2 separate regions of the Homo sapiens genome follow, and region 2 is linked to region 1. The links come from fine-mapping of genetic effects on gene expression. A gene starts in region 1. The other region holds a variant in brackets. All regions are shown on one strand. Distances are from middle to middle. Region 1 holds the start of MAPK3 (mitogen-activated protein kinase 3). Region 2 has its middle 10 kb from the start of CD2BP2.

Evidence for each region. PIP is the estimated chance that this variant, and not a neighbour inherited with it, causes the effect. A credible set is the group of variants that fine-mapping cannot tell apart.
Region 2: its variant is the best candidate, but not a certain one, in a credible set for the expression of MAPK3 in whole blood (INTERVAL, PIP 0.80).

What each region holds. Positions count from the first base shown.
Region 1 is chr16:30,120,481-30,125,849 of GRCh38, reverse strand. MAPK3 (mitogen-activated protein kinase 3) reads left to right here and starts at 2,630. Exons shown (of 9, transcript NM_002746.3): 1 at 2,630-2,810; 2 at 3,844-4,026. The coding sequence starts at 2,641. RefSeq lists a silencer at 2,269-2,638.
Region 2 is chr16:30,342,303-30,347,671 of GRCh38, reverse strand. It overlaps the pseudogene LOC100421031. Among named protein-coding and RNA genes, the nearest start is that of CD2BP2, 10 kb to the left of the region's middle. RefSeq lists an enhancer at 4,509-5,010. The variant T/C (reference allele first, on the strand shown) is at 2,996.

The DNA.
Region 1 (5,369 bases):
AGGATCTGTTGAGCCTAAGAGTTCGAGCCTGCAGTGACCTATGATCTTGCCACTACACTCCACTCCAGCCTGGGCAACAGAGCAAGACCCTGTGCTAGAAAAATAATTCTGCCGGGCACAGTGGCTCACGCCTGTACTCCTAGCACTTTGGGAGGCCGAGGCAGGTGGATCATGAGGTCAGGAGATGGAGACCATCCTGGCTAACACGGTGAAACCCCGTCTCTACTAAAAATACAAAAAATTAGCCAGGCATGGTGGCGGGTGTCTGCAGTCCCAGCTACTCAGGAGGCTGAGGCAGGAGAATGGCGTGAACCTGGGAGGCGGAGCTTGCAGTGAGCTGAGATCGCGCCACTGCACTCCAGCCTGGGTGACAGAGCGTAAGCTTCCACATCGTTTTCCCTCTGTCCCTTTTTTTGGGGGGGTGGGGGTGGGGGCAGGGTCTCTCACTCTGTCACCCAGGCTGGAGTGCAGTGGCACCATCAGAGCTCACTGCAACCTCAACATCCTGGGCTCAACTGATCCTCCTGCCTCAGCCTCCCAAGTAGCTGGGATTACGGACGCATGCCACCACACCCAGCTCATTTTTGTATTTTTGGTAGAGATGGGATCTCACTATGTTGCCCAGGCTGGTCTCCAGCTGCTGGGGTCAAGCAATCAGCCTGCCTCAGCCTCCCAAAGTGCTGGAATCACAGAGGTGAGCCACCACGACCAGCCAGCATCATTTTCCAGTTAAATGTTAATAGTATCTACTTCATATGGCTGCTGTGAGGATTACAGGAGGTAGTGTACATAAAAGTGCCTGGCAAGCCAGGTGCCGTAATCTCAGCACTCTGGGAGGCCAATGTGGGTGGATCACCTGAGGTCAAGAGTTTGAGACCAGCCTGGCCAACATGGTGAAACCTCGTCTCTACTAAAAATACAAAAATTAGCCGGGCGTGGTGGCTGGCGCCTGTAATCCTAGCTACTTGGGAGGCTGAGGTGGGAGAATGACTTGAACCCAGGAGGTAGGGGTTGCAGTGAGCTTGCACTCCTGCCTGGGTGATAGAGCAAGACTCCGTCTCAAAAAAACAAACAAACAAACAAACAAAAAAAAACCAAAAGTGCCTGGCACAGAAGAGATGGTAAGTCTACATTAGTTGAATATGCGTCTATGAACCAGAACAAATCCCAGTCCAGTCCTCCAAGGAAATGCCAACCTCAGTCACTAGAGGGGAATCTCAGTCACACTCTAACTGAGCTTCCAGCAGCAGGAGGTGGCAGCTTGCAGCTCTGATACACCAGCCTTTCCTATGCTGGGAAACTCACTCCCACTCAGCAAACCTGGCTCCATGCTGAACTCCATAGTGTTTTCTCTGAGTCACTATATTCTCCCGCAGTTGCAAAATGATCTGGCAAAAGTCCCTCTAGGGTTTTTACTGCTTACTGAGTAACATCCAAACTCCTTGCCAGAATCCAGAGCCTTCCTAATCTGGCCCCAACCTACCTCTCCAGGCTGAAACCTCATCATTTTTTTACTGCAGCCATGCTGGACAAGTTATGCTTCTGCCTTTATGCCTCAGCTCACCCCGATCCTTCTCCTTCATGCCTTTCTTCAGTCCCTACCTTCTGCAACCCTACTTTTTCTCTTCTTCTTTTTGTTTTTTGTTTTTGAGACGGAGTGTTGCTCTGTCGCCCAGGCTGGAGTGAAGTGGTGCAATCTCAGCTCACTGCAACCTCCTCCTCTCGGGTTCAAGCGATTCTCCTGCCTCAGTCTCCCAAGTAGCTTGGATTACAGGCACGTGCCACCATGCCCAGCTAATTTTTGTATTTTTAGTAGAGACGGGGTTTCACCATGTTGGTCAGGCTGGTCTCAAACTCAGGTGATCTGCCCACCTCGGCCTCCCAAAGTGCTGGGATTACAGGCGTGAGCCACCGTGCCCAGCCCCCCAATTTTTTTTTTTAATTAGCAGGGCGTGGTGGCGCGCACTCGTAGTCCCAGCTCTTTGGGAGGCTGAGGTGGGAGGATCACTTGACCCCAGGGAGGTTGAGGCTGCAGTGAGCAATTATTGCACCACTACACTCCAGCCTGGACGACAGAGAGAGACCCTGTCTCTATAATAAAATAAAAACAGTCTAGGACTCTGAGAGGCATGGAATTAGAAAGAGTCTCTGTGTCAGAAGACACCATTTTGAGTCTCAGCTGTCACTACTAGTGACCTTACCCAAGTTAGTAAACCTAACTCTCAGATTCTCCATCTGTAAAATTTGATCCATTTATTAGAACATTATTTTTAACCTAGGGTGATCCCGGGCCCAGGTTCTGGTGGGCTGCCGCATACATTGGCTGGGTGGCTCTGGTAGGTCACGCCCTGGCCGCTTCGCCATCGAGGGGAGGGTGAGGACAGTCTCCGAGGCGGCGCTGCCGAACCTCCCGGTGACCTGGAGGCCGCGGAGCCCGCAGGGACCCATGGCCCCCGAACCTGGGGCAAGAAGGGCGGGCGCGCGCGGGGCGGGTCACGTGACAGCTCCAGGCCCACGCGGGGCCGGGGCAAGGGCGGGGCCTGGCGCGCGCGGCCCTGCGGGTGACAGGCAGGCGGGAAGGGGCGGGGCCTCGGGCGGGGCCGCCGTGGGGAGGAGGGCGGTGGGAGGGGAGGAGTGGAGATGGCGGCGGCGGCGGCTCAGGGGGGCGGGGGCGGGGAGCCCCGTAGAACCGAGGGGGTCGGCCCGGGGGTCCCGGGGGAGGTGGAGATGGTGAAGGGGCAGCCGTTCGACGTGGGCCCGCGCTACACGCAGTTGCAGTACATCGGCGAGGGCGCGTACGGCATGGTCAGGTGAGGGGGCGTTCCGGGGGAGGGGGTGCCCTCAGGGGAGGGGGCTTCGCGGGAGAGGAGGAGGAGGCGCCGAGCGCTTTCCGGGACGTGGAGACGCGGAGCGTCCCGAGGAGGCAGGAGACTCGGGATGATCGGGAGCGTCCCAGGGAGGGGGCCCCTGAGTGCTTTCTGGGGGAGGGGGCGCTGCCTACGTCCTCAGGGGAGCAGGCTTGGAGGCTTTGAGTCCACCCTTCTGTAATGATGGGAGGGGCATCCGAGTGCATGTGGGGGCCCGCGGGGACCCTAGTGACACGGGGCGAGGCCCAGAGGATGAGTACTCTCGGGGAGGCGACATCCTTAGTGAAGAGGCAGTGGAGGGCCCGTTTTGGGGGAAAGGGTGTCTTGGATTCCCCCTGTGAGGCAGTGCCAGGGAGCCTGGGGGAGAAGAGCCGAGATCAGGGTGGGGCAGGGCTTTGGCCCCACCACCCCAGGGGCCCAGAGAGAGATGAGGCGGCCAGGAGTGCCACCTGCATGTTTTGGGAGGGGTCTGTGAGTGCCCCCGGCCCCACCGTGTGCTCTGGGCCTCTATCCCTCTGGGACAGCCCCGCTGCCCGGATCCCTCACCCTGGGACCCTCCCCTGCCCTGTCCATTCTCTCCTGCCCCTCCCCTGGCTGCCACCTTCCCAGTATTTGCCCCATGGTGTGTCCCCAGCATCTGCACCCCCGGACCTGTCTTGGGTTAAGGAGCCTTTCCTGGGAATGGGGGCGAAGGGTTCAGGGCCAGTAGAATGGAAGGGGATTGAGGAGAGGGGAAGTCAGTGAGCGGTCAGTCTCTTCCTCTGTTTGTAAAGTCACCGAAGGGCCGCCTGGCTGGTCCCCAGCTTTCTCTCTGGAGATCCCAGGCCTCCACAGCAGGAAGGAACCAGCATTGTTTATGATTTGACCAGAGCCAGCTCCTGCTCTCTCCCCTCCCTGCCAAGGCCTGGGTGGGGCCACCAGGCCCGGACTCCCCCTTTGTAAGGCCACAGCAGCAGCCTCTCTCCGGTCCCCTCAGCTCGGCCTATGACCACGTGCGCAAGACTCGCGTGGCCATCAAGAAGATCAGCCCCTTCGAACATCAGACCTACTGCCAGCGCACGCTCCGGGAGATCCAGATCCTGCTGCGCTTCCGCCATGAGAATGTCATCGGCATCCGAGACATTCTGCGGGCGTCCACCCTGGAAGCCATGAGAGATGTGTATCCTTCACCTTGGCCAGTCGGCTGGTCAGGCACGGCCTCGCAGCTGGGCTGGGGACCCGTTGCTTGGTTTCTGTTTCCATCTTACCCACCACCCTCCAAAACAAACCCAGTAAAATAAACTTTCCTGCAGAGGGGAAGCCACAGTGTAACAGGACTTGGAGACCTCTGATGAACCCAGGCCTGCAGCGGCCCAGGCAGTATGGCCTCGAGCAAGTGGGTTCTCTGCTCTGTGCCCCAGGGGGAAGGGCTAGGCAGGATGGTCTCTATGGGAGTGGTGTCTTCTGACGTCGGCAGTTCTGAGACATGACCTGGCCTCTGCCCACAGTCACTTCTTGCTAAGGAATGGATGATTCTTTCCTCTCTTTCCTCCTTGCCCAGACCGGAAGGGAGACAGGGAGAAAGAAAACTGTCAGCTGGGCGTGGTGGCTCACGCCTGTAATCCCAGCACTTTGGGAGGCTGAGGTGGGAGATTACCTGAGGTCAGTAGTTGGAGACCAGCCTGGCCAACATGGTTAAACCCCATCTCTACTAAAAATACAAAAAAATTAGCGGGGCATGGTGGTGCAAGCCTGTAATCCCAGCTACTTGGGAGGCAGAGGTAGGAGAATCGCTTGAACCCAGGAGCTGGAGGTTGCAGTGAGCCAAGATCGTGCCACTGCACTCCAGCCTGGGTGACAGAGCGAGACTCTGTCTCAAAACTAAACAAAAACAAAAAACTGCCTTTCTTGAGGGCCTGCTGTGTGTCAGGTACTATACATGCCCAATGCTTTTTTTTTTCTATTACACCTCCCAACTACCCTATGAGATGGGCTTTTCAGCTTCATTTCAAAGATGAGGGGTGGAGTGCAATGGCTCACATCTGTAGTCCCAACACTTTGGGAGGCTAAGACCAGAGGATCACTGGAGGCCAGGAGTTCAAGACCAGCCTGGGCAGCATAGTGAGACCCCACCTCTACAAAAAATTTAAAAATTATCCAGGTTTGGTGGTACACGACTATAGTCCCAGCTACTTGGGAGGCTGAGGCAGGAGGATGGCTTGAGCTTAGGAGTTCGAGGCTGCAGTGAGCTATGATTGTGCTACTGCACTCTAGCCTGGGGGACAGAGCGTGACCCTGTCAAAAAAAAAAAAAAAAAAAAAGATGAGGAAGCTAAGGCTCAGAAAACCTAAAATCAAGTGTTTCTGTTGCTGTCTCCTCCTCTCCTCCCCCAGATGGGAACTTGTCCTTCTTCTTAGGACTTCTCACTCAGAGCCACACCCTAATCACCTGTGGACTTGCACCTTGCCCAGGGAGGGACAGCCTAGCCTTGGCTGTCCTCCCCCAATACTGCTTTCCTAGTTT
Region 2 (5,369 bases), 220 kb before region 1:
AGCTCCTCCTGATGCCAAGACCTGAGAGGAGTTTCTCCCAAGGATGGATTTCAAGGTAGATGTTTTGTGTGGGGCCCAAGTAACAACAGTGCTCCGTGGAGTCAGCAGCCACTCTGAACTCCCTGTGGAGCCCAGTCCCCAGCTGCCGGGCACCCTCGGGGGTATGCTCCACAGGGGAGGGTTCAGTGGCCCCTGACCACCTACACCCCCTGCGGTGGGCCACCGCTGCCATCTCCAGTTGGCCGCTGCAGGTGGCTGCAATCCTGTCCCCGCTAGGCCCCTGTTCCCCAGGAGGCTTCTCTGTCCCTTTATGTAAGATGCCAGCTTCCCAGCTGCCCATGCAGACGTGGCACATGACCTGCCTGTAAAAGTCAGCAGCAGGCGCTGGCAGCCTCTGGTTTCCCTCTTCTTATTTATTTGTATTTATTTATTTATTTATTTATTTATTTATTTATTTATTGAGACTGAGTTTCGCTCTTGTTGCCCAGGCTGGAGTGCAGTGGCGTGATCTCGGCTCACTGCAACCTCCGCCTCCCGGGTTCAAGCAATTCTCCTTCTTCAGCCTCCTGAGTAACTGGGATTACAGGCGCCCGCCACCACGCCCAGCAGATTTTTGTAGTTTTAGTAGAGATGGGGTTTTGCCATGTTGGCCAGGGTGGTCTTGAGCTCCTGACCTCAAGTGATCCACCTGCCTTGGCCTCCCAAAGTGCTGGGATTACAGTTGTGAGCCACCGCGCTCTGCCATTTAGTTTTAGAGACAGCGTCTTGCTGTGTCGCCCAGGCTGGAGTGCAGTGGTGCGATCATAGCTCACTGCAGGCTGGACCTCCTGAGCTCAAGTGATCCTCCCACTTCAGCCCCTTTATTTTTATTTTTTATAGACGTGGGGTCTCACTATGTTGACCAGGCTGATCTCAAACTCCTGGCCTCAAATGATCCTCCTGCCTGGGTCTCCCAAAGTGTTGGGATTACAGGCATGAGCTGCCGTGCCCAGCCCAGTTTCTCCATTCTGATGCCATCGTACTTGCTCTTACTTTCCTGATACCCCACCCATCCCTATTCCCTCCCCATACAGCTGCCTTGCAGCTCTTGGTGGCTTCAGACCTTGTAGCTCCAGTGCACTCTTTGGGACACATTTTTCTGTCTTGAACACTTCACATTCCTTTGGATACAATGTGGGCATTTGCCCTCTGGCCTCAGACATTGAGACCTCTTACCTGGCCCAGCCTTCCCCGGCTTACACACTAAGCCCGTTCTCTGCCAGGCATGTAATCTCAGCTGAGGTGGGCAGATGGCTTGAGCCAAGGAGTTTGAGACCAGCTGGGCAATATAGCCAGACTCCATCTCTACACACACAAAAAGTGTATATATATATATATATTTGTATGTATACATATATACATCCTCTATTTGACAGGGGAAGAAGAGGGTGTCTGGCATTTATTAGGGACCTAAATAAGTTCAGAATATTATGTTTAATCTCCTTGACTACCTATTTAGTTACGTATCTCTCCCACTTTGCTGATGAGAAAAATGAGGCTCAGAGAGGTGACATTCAACATCACATAGCCTGAGGGTGGTAAAGCCAGGATTTTAACCGAGGTCTGTGGGACTCTAAAGTCCTGTCAAAATTTTTGGTCGAGTGTTTGCTCATATGTTTTGCCTGTTTTAAAAACTGAATTGTTTGTCTTCTGATTGACTTGTAAGAGACCTTGATCATTAGATATTCCAGATAATGAGTCCTTTGTCAGATTCTGTTTTGTGAATATTTTCTTGATCCATGACTTGTCTTTTTTTTTTTTTCTGTCATCATCTTGAAGAACAAAAGTTTTAAATCTGGTTAAAATTTAATTTGCTGACTTTTCTTTGAGACAGAATCTTGCTCTGTCTCCTAGGCTGGGGTGCAGTGGTGCAATCTCACCTCAGTGCAACCTCCGCCTCCTGGGTTCAAGCAATTCTCCTGCCTCAGCTTCCCAAGTAGCTGGCGTTAGAGGCGCACACCACCATGCCTGGCTAATTTTTGTATTTTTAGTAGAGATGGGGGAGATGGGGTTTCACCATGTTGGCCAGGCTGATCATTTTTTTTTTTTTTTTTTTTTTTTTTTGAGACAGAGTCCCACTATGTGGTCTAGGCTGGAGTGCAGTGGCGCAATCTCGGCTCACTGCAACCTCTGCCATCTGGGTTCAAGGAATTCTTGTGCCTCAGCCTCCTGAGTAGCTGGGACTACAGGCTGCCACACCCAGCTAATTTTTGTATTTTTAGTAGACCACCATGTTGGCCAGGCTGGTCTCGAACTCCTGACCTCAAGTGATTGGCCCGCTTCAGTCTCCCAAAGTGCTGGGATTACAGGCGTGAGTCGCCGCACCTGGCTTAATTTGTTGATTAAAAAATCATTTGTGCTTTTTGTGTCCTATTTAAGAAATCTTTGAGCCAGGTATAGTGGCTCATGCCTGTAATTCCAGCATTTTGGGAGGGTGAGGCAGGAGGCTCAGTTGAGTCCAGGAGTTGGAGACCAGCCTAGGCAACATAGCAAGACCCTGTCTCTACGAAAATTTAAAAAATTAGCCAGGCATGGTGGCTCGAGCCTGTAGTTCCAGCTACTCCAGAGGCTGAGGCAGGAGGATCCCTTGACCCTAGGAGTTTGAGGCTGCAGTGAGCTATGATTGTGCCACTGCACTCCATTCTGGGTGACAGACCAAGACTTTGTCTCTAAATAAATAAAATAAAATAAAACAAAACAAAATAAAATGCATTTTAAAAATTAAAAAAAGAGCCAAGCACGGTGGCTCACGCCTGTAATCCCAACACTTTGGGAGGCCTAGATGGGCAGATCACCTGAGGTCAGGAGTTCGAGACCAGCCTGAACAACATGGTGAAACCCTGTCTTTACTAAAAATACAAAACTTAGCTGGGTATGGTGGCTTATGCCTGTAATCCCAGCTACTGGGGAGGCTGAGACAGGAGAATCACTTGAACCCGGGAGGCAGAGGTTGCAG[T/C]GAGTCGAGATTGGGTCACTGCACTCCAGCCTGGGCAACAGAGCGAGACTGTTTCAAAAAAAAAAAAAAATTAAAAAGAGCACTTCTGGGAGTGAAAAAGAAAAACCTTGCTCTTGATGCCTAGAGAGCTGTGCTAGTTCCAAAGATAAAGCTTTTACTTTAGGCACCGACCTCAAATTAATCTTGTAGGAAAGTGTTTTGTCTTGTTTTGTTTTGTTTGTTTTTTGTTTTTTGAGACAGAGTTTTGCTCTTGTTGCCCAGGCTGGTGTGCAATGGGCGATCTTGGCTTACTGCAACCTCCGCCTCCCAGATTCAAGGGATTCTCCCGCCTCAGCCTCCTGAGTAGCTGGGATTACAGGTGCCGGACACCATGCCTGGCTAATTTTTGTATTTTTAGTAGAGATGGGGTTTCATCATGTTGGTCAGGCTGGTCTGAAACTCCTGACCTCGTGATCTGCCCGCCTTGGCCTCCCAAAGTGCTGGGATTACAGGTGTGAGCCACCGCACCCAGCCTTATTAATTATATTTAAGGCTATTCAAGTTTTCTTTTCTTTTCTCTTTTTTTTTTTTTTTTTTGAGACAGAATTTCACTCTGTTGCCCAGGCTGGAGTGCACCGGTGTGAACTTGGCTCACTGCAGCCTCCACACCCAGTAGCTGGGACTACAGGCGCACATCACCACACCCAGCTAATTTTTATAATTTTACTAGAGACGGGGTCTTGTCCTGTTTTCCAGGTTGGTCTTGCACTACTGCTGGCCTCATGTGATCCACCTGCCTCGGCCTCCTGGGATTAGCACTTTGGGAGGCCGAGGTGGATGGTTCACCTGAGGTCAGGAGTTCAAGACCAGCCTGTCCAACATGGTGAAACCCTGTCTCTACTAAAAATACAAAAAATTAGCCAGGCGCGGCGGTGGGCGCCTGCAATCCCCACTACTTGGGAGGCTGAGGCAAGAAAATCGCTTGAACCTGGGAGGCAGAGGCTGCAGTGAGCCGAGATTGCACAATTGTACTTCAGCCTGGGTAACAAGAGCGAAACTCCATCTCAAACAAAACAAAACAAAAAGAGAGAGAGAAAAAAAAAAAAACCACAAAGTGCCGGGATTACAGGTGTGAGCCCCTGTGCCCGGCCTATTCAAGTTTTCTATTTCTTCTTTTTTTTTTTTTTTTTTTTGAGACGGAGTCTCGCTCTGTCTCCCAGGCTGAAGTGCAGTGGCGCGCCAGCAGCACAAGGAAAGCAGCACCTTCCAGCTCTCCTCCGCCTTCTCCGCGAAGCCCCTGACCCTGCTCCCAGAACAGGGAGCGGAGAGGAGAAAGTCCTCGAGCCCCAGCTGGCACTCACCTGATGCCTTGGTGGCATCGTCAAATTCCACCTGGAAGAGGTAGCCAGTGTTCCAGATGTACAGGCAGGATGCCACGTCATAGGAGACCCTGAGTGGCTTCAGCCAGGGGTCATAGACGCTGTCCCTCCACTGGATGTTGATAGGAGACTGCCGGGTGCCCCCTGGCACGGAGACCGGGCCCGTCCAGAGTGGGTGCACTGCAGGGAGAGAGAAGGAGACCCCGAGTGAGGCATGAGCTTCATCCTGTGTCTTGGACGGATAGGGCAGAAACCTGGCCGCACGAGACCCCACAGGTACTGGCTCATGGGAAACAGACCCACGGGAAACGGGTGCGTGGGGGCCCCTGCGCAGCTGGACGCGCGTCCACAGGGTACTCGCCTGCTCCTCTCCTTTCCGCACCACTCGGGGACTTTCTTTCCCACCCAGAAGCAACTCCCTCTCGGCCCGTGCCGCCTGTGTTGATGGGTTTTTGACTTTTGTGTTGCCCTTGTCACAGAGTGGTCACAGGAAGTCTGGAGAGACCTTGGGGAGGGCAGGTGGGCGGAGGAGGGCCCTGTGGGGAAGGCAGGCTGAGTGCAGTGGGGCTCTTGTCTCTCGGGAAGGGCTTGAAACCTCCCTTCCCACTCACAGGTATCCCACCTAGTGGGTCCTGTGGAAACTGGAGCTGCTTTGGAAGTCTCACTCTCCAAGCCCTCTGGCAAGGAGGAAATGAGACCCCAGTGTGGAGAAAATTAAGCAGAGTGGCAGCCCCTTTACCCACTTCCTCGAGGCTCATTTCAAACTGCTTTGATTGTCATTTTTAAAGTTAAGAGCCATTAATCAAAAACAGTTCAGAGGTCAGAAACAGTGGCTCACGCCTGTAATCCCAGCACTTTCGGAAGCAAGGTGGGCAGATCGCCTGAGGTCAGGAGTTTGAGACCAGCCTGACCAACATGGCAAAACCCCATCTTTACTGAAAATGTAAAAATCAGCTGGGTGTGGTGGCGGGCGCCTGTAATCCCAGCTATTCGGGAGGCTGAGGCAGGAGAATGGC